Homo sapiens: one gene and its partner. The protein of the gene in region 1 purifies or fractionates together with the protein of each later gene. This does not show direct contact. Each region holds a gene or a part of one and is shown in the gene's direction. Other genes may lie near its edges. The genes, in order: ZNF398 and JMY.

Evidence for each region.
Region 2: the proteins of ZNF398 (region 1) and JMY purify together in Homo sapiens (affinity purification with mass spectrometry; one large-scale study listed by BioGRID and IntAct). This does not show direct contact.

The regions. Positions count from the first base shown.
Region 1 is NC_000007.14:149,150,217-149,154,037, forward strand, and holds part of ZNF398 (zinc finger protein 398), read left to right. Parts: intron 1-758; exon of another isoform or gene 759-1,027; coding exon of another isoform or gene 1,028-1,066; intron 1,067-3,728; coding exon 3,729-3,821. UniProt on the Homo sapiens protein: Functions as a transcriptional activator.
Region 2 is NC_000005.10:79,312,580-79,316,400, forward strand, and holds part of JMY (junction-mediating and -regulatory protein), read left to right. Parts: intron 1-1,677; coding exon 1,678-2,272; intron 2,273-3,420; coding exon 3,421-3,728; 3' UTR 3,729-3,731; intron 3,732-3,821. UniProt on the Homo sapiens protein: Acts both as a nuclear p53/TP53-cofactor and a cytoplasmic regulator of actin dynamics depending on conditions. In nucleus, acts as a cofactor that increases p53/TP53 response via its interaction with p300/EP300.

The DNA.
Region 1 (3,821 bases):
AAGAGGACATGTCATCTTCTGAGAGTGGGGGCTGCAGCAGACAAGTCTTACTACTCAGTGTCAGCATCACCTGGGAATTTGTTAAAAATACAAAATCTCAGGCTGTGTACCATGGCTCACACCTGTAATCCCAGCACTTTGGGAGGCTGAGGCAGGTGGATCACTTGAGCTGAGTAGTTTGAGACCAGCCTAGGCAATATGGTGAAACCCTGTCTCTACCAAAAATACAAAAATTAGCAGGGCATGGTGGTGTGTGCCTGTGGTCCCGGCTACTCGGGAGGCTGAGATGGGAGAATCGCTTGAGCCCATGAGATGGAGGTTGCGGTAAGCTGAGATTACACCACTGCACTCCAGCCTGGGTGACAGTGAGACCTCATCCCAAAAAAACAAAAACAAAACCCAACAGAATCTCAGTTTTCCTTACAGACCTACTGAATAAAAATCTGTACTTTGACAAGATCTCCAGGTGATTCTTCCCCGCCTCCCGCGCCCCCCCGCCTCCCCTCCTGCCCTAGACAGAGTCTTGCTCTGTCACCATGCTGGAGTGCAGTGGCACGATTTCAGCTCACTGCAACTTCCGCCTCCTGGGTTCAAGTGATTCTCTAGCCTCAGTCTCCCGAGTAGCTGGGATTACATGGCTTGCCACCACACCCAGCTAATTTTTGTATTTTTTAGTAGAGATAGGGTTTCACCATGCTGGTCAGGCTGGTCTCAAACTCCTGACCTCAGGTGATCCACCTGTCTCAGCCTTGCAAAGTGCTGGGATTACAGGCATGAGCCACTGTGCCTGGCCCCTCCAGCTGATTCTTATTCATGTTAGTTTGAGGACAAACTGTACTAAAAGCTGAAGGACTGTGCTGAGGCTTTGTAGTAGCCACTTTATGGAATGGGACAAGCGGCATGGAGGGCACAAGTCAGTGTTGAGATCCCCACTAAGCTTAGAAACCATTGGTATGTGGTGACAGCAGTTTACCTGGTGATTTCCTCTAGGCACGCTTACTAATCTGCTTACAGGAATGGAGAAAGAATGATTGGACTGATTCAAGGCCGGAGGTTAGCTGAGCAGGTGAGGCAGAAAGACATGAGAGAAGGGGAGTTGGAAGTGACTGATGTGATCAATTAGAGAAAAAAAGCCAGGAACGGGCAGATACCAGGAGCAAATGGAATGGTCAAAGGACTAGGTGAAATGAGAATAAAGTAGTGGGTGAGTTGGAAAGATGGGAGGTTGTCGTCAGAGAGTGGCTTATCAGGTTCATAGAGTTAGAAGGCTTTGTATACATCATCCTAGTCCAACTTATTTGTTGTGGGAATTTTTTCCTTTTATACTACTCTTTGTTTCAAAGTAAATTATTTTGGAGCAGCCTTTTATTTTCTTGGAAAGATCAATAACCCAGGAGTTATAGGTTACAAGGAGCTATGGTCATGTCAGTGCACTCCAGCCTCGGTGACCCTGTCTCTAAAAATAAAAAAATAAAAAAAAAATTAAGCTATAGAAGACATCCTGAGGTGGCTGGTTTGCATGCAAGCCTATTTATTTATTCATTCATTCAACAAAAATTTCTTTCTTTTTTTTTCTTTTTTTTTTTTTGAGACTGAATCTCGTTCTGTCGCGTAGGCTGGAGTACAGTAGCAGAATCTTGGCTCACTGTAACCTCTGCCTCCTGGGTTCAAGCAATAAGTGGATAACATTTAAACTATCCATCTTAGACTTTAAAATCATATATAAAATAATGTGGCCGGGCACGGTGGCTCACGCCCGTAATGCCAACACTTTGGGAGGCCGAGGAGGGCGGATCACGAGGTCAGGCTAACATGGTGAAACCCCATCTCTACTAAAAATACAAAAAATTAGCTGAGCATGGTGGCACGCTCCTGTAGTCCCAGCTACTCGGGAGACTGAGGCAGGAGAATCGCTTGAACCCAGGCAGCGGAGGTTGCAGTAAGCTGAGATGGCACCACTGTACTCCAGCCTGGGCGACAGAGCGAGACTCTGTCTCAAGAAATAAATAATTAATTAATTAATAATGTGATTTCCCTTAAAGATTTCTTTTTTTTTTTTTTTGAGACGGAGTTTCACTCTGTCACCCAGGCTGGAGTGCAGTGGCGCGAAGTTGGGTTGCTGTAAGCTCCGCCTCCTGGGTTCACGCCATTCTGCTGCCTCAGCCTCCGAAGTAGCTGAGACTACAGGCGCCCGCCACCACGCCTGGCTAATTTTTTCTATTTTTAGTAGAGACAGGGTTTCACCGTGTTAGCCAGGATGGTCTCGATCTCCTGACCTCGTGATCCACCCCCTCGGCCTCCCAAAGTGTTAGGATTGCAGGCGTGAGCCACCGCGCCTGGCCTAGATTTCTTTTTTTTTTTTTTTCTGAGACGGAGTTTTGCTCTTATTGCCCAGGCTGGAATGCAATGATGCGATCTCGGCTCACTGAAACCTCGGTCTCCTGGGTTCAAGCGATTGTCCTGCCTCAGCCTCTGAGTAGCTGAGATTACAGGCATCTGCCACGATGGCCGGCTAATTTTGTATCTTTAGTAGAGATGGGATTTCTCCACGTTGGTCAGGCAGGTCTCGAACTCCCGACCTCAGGTGATCGGCCTCTCAAAGTACTGGGATTACAGGTGTGAGCCACCCACCGTGCCCAGCCTCTTTTTTTTTTTTTTTTTGAGACACAGTCTCCCTCTGTTGCCCATGCTGCAGTGCAGTGGCATAATCTTGGCTCACTGTAACCTCCACTTCTCAGGTTCAAGCTGATTCTCCTGTCTCAGCCTCCCGAGTAGCTGGTGTTACAGATGTGCACCATCACCCGGCTAATTTTTGTACTTTTAGTAGAGACGGGATTTCACCATGTTGGCCAGGCTGGACTCGCACTCCCAAGCTCAGGTGATCTGCCCACCTCGGCCTCCCAAAGTGCTGGGATTACAGGCATGAGCCACCGCACCGGCAAGAATTTCTTTTTTTGAATAGTTCAACAATTATTTATTAGTGGGTCACAATGGCACACACCTGTAGCCCCAGCTACTTAGGAGGTTGAGGCAGGAGGATTGCTTGAGTGAGCCAGCCTAGGCAACATAATGAGACACCAAGACCCCGTCTCTAAAAAGAAAAAAATGTATTTATTGTAGGCCAAAGTTTGCCTGTCTGAAAATTTCGTTATGTTGGTTCTAGTTCTGCCCTCTGGAGTAACATAGTGTAAGATGAAACAAGGCTGTTCTGCCTTCTGTTTTGTAACCCTCATTATCTGAAAACAGCTCTCATGTTTTCTTCAGATTCAAGATTCTTAGCTTATTCAGCCATTACTGAATGGTGTGGTTGTAGTTTGTAAACAGGGTGATTGACAGGTCTAGAGCATAAGTCTATAATGGATTTATCAGAGGGCACTAGGTTCAGTGAGGCCTGGAAAGGATCCTTGTGCACATTTGCCTTTTCCAGAGATAGAGGATGCTGCAGCAACCTAAGCTGGGCCTTATAGCGGAGGAAATATACCAGACTAGTTCAAGAGCCAATTTCATTAATTCACTGTCTTACCCAATCTATCCCAGAACCACCAAATCAGGTCTCTTGGCTGTTGATGCCAGTGAGCTCCAGAAAGATGAGGCATACGCAGGCAGTACTAGAACTATATTCAAATTAATCTCTGCTGGACAGTTAAGCAGTCCTTATCTGATTTTAGTTTGGAGTTAGGGTTCCTTCTAACACTCAATGTCTTGTTCCATCTTTCCACTGCATGCAGACATCTGAATGGGACTCCGAGTGCCTTACATCCCTGCAGCCCCTTCCTCTTCCTACACCCCCAGCAGCAAATGAGGCACACCTGCAGACAGCA
Region 2 (3,821 bases), on another chromosome or scaffold:
TTGTGGGAAAAACTTGGTTTTCCCTTATTTATAAACTATTATAACCATGGAAGTCCTTTTTAAAATTGTTTTAATGGCATGGCTCCATTTCCTCTGGTGGTTTTCCGAATTTAGTATTCTTGTGACCTTTGACCCACAGCTTCAGTAGTATAAGAGGAATGATAAGGGCCTCTGGGAAACCTAGATTCCTCTTGAGTTTAAAAAATTAGTTAAATCACAACTGACTATCCAGCTCAAGCATCAGCATGTTATTTATTCCACATACATCAGCCTGTGGTGGTAATACATCAAATGACCATTGGCAGAATTAGAGGTGGAGGGGAGCAGCATATTTGAGAAATGCTTCAGCAGTTCTCTTGCCAGGGTAAGCCATGACCACACACTGATACCACAGTATCCACACATCTCCTCAGAACTGTGCTGAAGCCTCACAGTTCTCATTTTTAAAGTACTCTGGAGCCTTACTTCAGTTATGCATGCTGAAGGATCACTTTGTAGGTGAAGTAGGCTTTTGAACAAGTGTTACAGTGGAAAAAAAGGAGGTGAGGCAGGGGAAAAGCCTTGTTATTAAGTAAATGTGGCTCACGCCTGTAATCCCAGCACTTTATGAGGCTGAGGCAGGTGGATTGCTTGAGCCGGGGAGTTCAAGACCAGCCTGGGTAACATGGCGAAACCCTGTCTCTATACAAATTAGCCTGGCATGGTGGAACATGCCTGTGGTTCCGGCCATTTGGGTGGCTGAAGTGGGAGGATTACCTGAGCCAGGGAGGTCATGGCTGCAGTGAGCTGTGATCATACCACTGCACTCCAGTCTGGGCAACAGAGTGAGACCCTGTCTCAAAAACAAACAAACAAACAAAAGGTCTTACCATGGTAAAATATATATAAGAGTTCTACCAGTAAGTACTGAAAAAAATGTATTTCTCTCTTCATTCTGTCATAAAATGGATATATAGTTGATGGAGCTTTTTAAAAATGCCAAGTAACCTGTTAAAGAATATTTTAATTTTCTCGTGTGTGCATTTGAAAACATAGGAAACTTTTTGCATACCAGTAGCATTTATACATTTGACATCACTTATGTTTTGCATTTTACATGCTATTTGTTTTATACATTTAGTAGTTTTATTCACTAAAAATCTTTTTTTAATCATAATTTTGAATATTTGAATTATCAATCGTGGATTTGATAGGCAAATAATAAATTCATAATTGTTTGTAAGCTATTATTAGGTACTTTCGGATTTTCTGTATAACTTTAAGGGTGAAATAACCAATAAGCCAACATAACATTTTTGAGATGGAATCTCACTCTGTCACTCAGGCTGGAGTGCGGTGGCACAATCTCGGCTCACTGCAACTTCCGCCTCCCGGGTTCAAGCAATTCTCCTGCCTCAGCCTCCTGAGTAGCTGGGACTACAGGTGCCTGCCACCACACCCAGCTAATTTTTGTATTTTTAGTAGTGACGGGGTTTCACCATGTCGGCCAGGCTGGTCTCAAACTCCTGATCTCAGGTGATCCACCCGCCTCGGCCTCCCAAAGTGCTGGGATTACAGGCGTGAGCCACCACACCCGGCCACATAACATCTTTTATTTGAAGGAGAAAATAAATAGGCATGTGCTCATAAATTGTTTCAATAACATTTAACCAGTTCCAATAACTTCTGGTATTTTAGAGGTATCCTGGGCAAGTCATACTTAAATCAACCAGATTACGACTAGCTCATGCAAGAAGAAAAGGTGCAGCAAGTCCTGTTCTCCAAGAGGATCATTGTGACTCTTTACCAAGTGTGTTACAGGTAGAAGAGAAAACTGAAGAGGTGGGAGAAGGAAGAGTCAAGCGTGGGCCATCACAGACAACAGAACCCCAGAGCCTTGTGCAACTTGAAGATACTTCATTAACACAACTTGAAGCCACCTCATTACCTCTCAGTGGTGTTACCTCTGAACTGCCTCCCACTATATCTCTTCCACTTTTGAATAACAACCTCGAACCATGTTCTGTTACCATAAATCCACTCCCATCCCCTCTTCCTCCAACACCACCACCTCCCCCACCTCCTCCCCCTCCCCCACCACCACCACCTCTGCCTGTTGCTAAGGACAGTGGCCCAGAGACACTGGAGAAAGATCTGCCTAGAAAGGAGGGGAATGAGAAGAGGATCCCAAAGTCAGCCAGTGCCCCCTCAGCACACCTCTTTGACAGCAGCCAGCTGGTCAGTGCACGGAAGAAGCTCAGAAAGACTGCTGAAGGTTTGCAGAGGAGGAGAGGTACGTCAACATATTTTCATGGTCCATCTGTTGTATGACATCAGGCATAGTAAAAAACTATATTTTTTGACGTTGCAAAGCTTAAAACACTTTATTTTTGACATTATTTGATAGTAAACAGGTTTTCAAAGTCACACTAGAGGAGAATTCTTAGTGCATAAAGTACACAGAAATGTATGCCTTCTTGGGCTGTTAGGCATGTTTTAAAAACAGATCTTCTAAAGTGATACATTCATGTTTGGTAATGTATAATGGGTGGCTCCTTTTGTGTTAGGGAAAAAGTTTTGATTTTAAACCTGAGATTTTTAAAAAAATACTCATATCAGAAAGGGTAAGATATCTGGTAAGGACTGTCACCACAGGGAAGACATTGGCAGGATCATGTAACATTTGTTCATACATTTGTTGAGGACTTTTGTGTATTTGTATAAAGAAGCAAAGAAGAACAGGGAGTAATCTGTTCAACTTACAATGTGACAGATGTGCCTCAATAAGGTTACTATTTTTTTTTCTAATTTTTTTTGTTAAGAGAGATTCAAGCACAAATAAAATTATTTCTAAAAAGAGCAGAGAATAACCCTTGCCTTTTGCCTTTAAGGAATTTGCATTTTGCATGGGGAGAACATTATATAAATGTTACATATTACTTGTATATTACATTTTAACCTGAAGGACCATTCTATAAAACATTTCTTGATGTAATCTGAGTAGGATTTCACATGTAAAACAACTAAATGAAAAAAGCACAGTCTCCATAATAAACAAAAATTAATTTTTAAAAACAAAATGTGTAACCCCATCACTCTGAATTTGGGTGGAGCAACTGCAATATGGAAATCCTTTGGGAATCACACCCATAATACTACTAAGACCACCTCCCAGTTCCCAATCTGGTCACTTCTCTCATGTAGGAAATGATAGGAATACCAACAGTACCCACCATGGATTGGGTCTTGGGATTTTCTAAAAAGAAGGATAATTAGGATCCCTTGTGTTCTGATCACCTTCTGCACACATTTCATGATCCATTTTGAAGATGGTGTTTCAGCGTCCTGTGCTTTCACAGTTGCGAACGGTAGAGGTTATACAGTTTCATTCTAATTAAGTGCAGTCCTAACTGTAATACTGTTCTGTTTCATTTTCCAAAGTGAGCTCACCCATGGATGAGGTGCTAGCCTCCTTGAAGCGTGGTAGTTTTCATCTGAAAAAGGTTGAACAGCGAACTCTGCCTCCTTTTCCTGATGAAGATGATAGTAATAATATCTTGGCACAAATAAGGAAAGGGGTAAAATTGAAGAAGGTACAGAAGGATGTTTTGAGAGAATCCTTCACACTTCTACCCGATACAGACCCTCTAACACGGAGCATCCATGAAGCTCTTAGAAGAATTAAAGAAGCATCCCCAGAGTCAGAGGACGAAGAGGAGGCTTTACCTTGCACAGACTGGGAGAACTAACAAGTAAACGGCCTTATTGTCTTTAGTAGCATTCAGTAATACAGGTTTTATATCGGATGATGAGGTTTGGGGTATTTTTTATTGAGCCTGAGG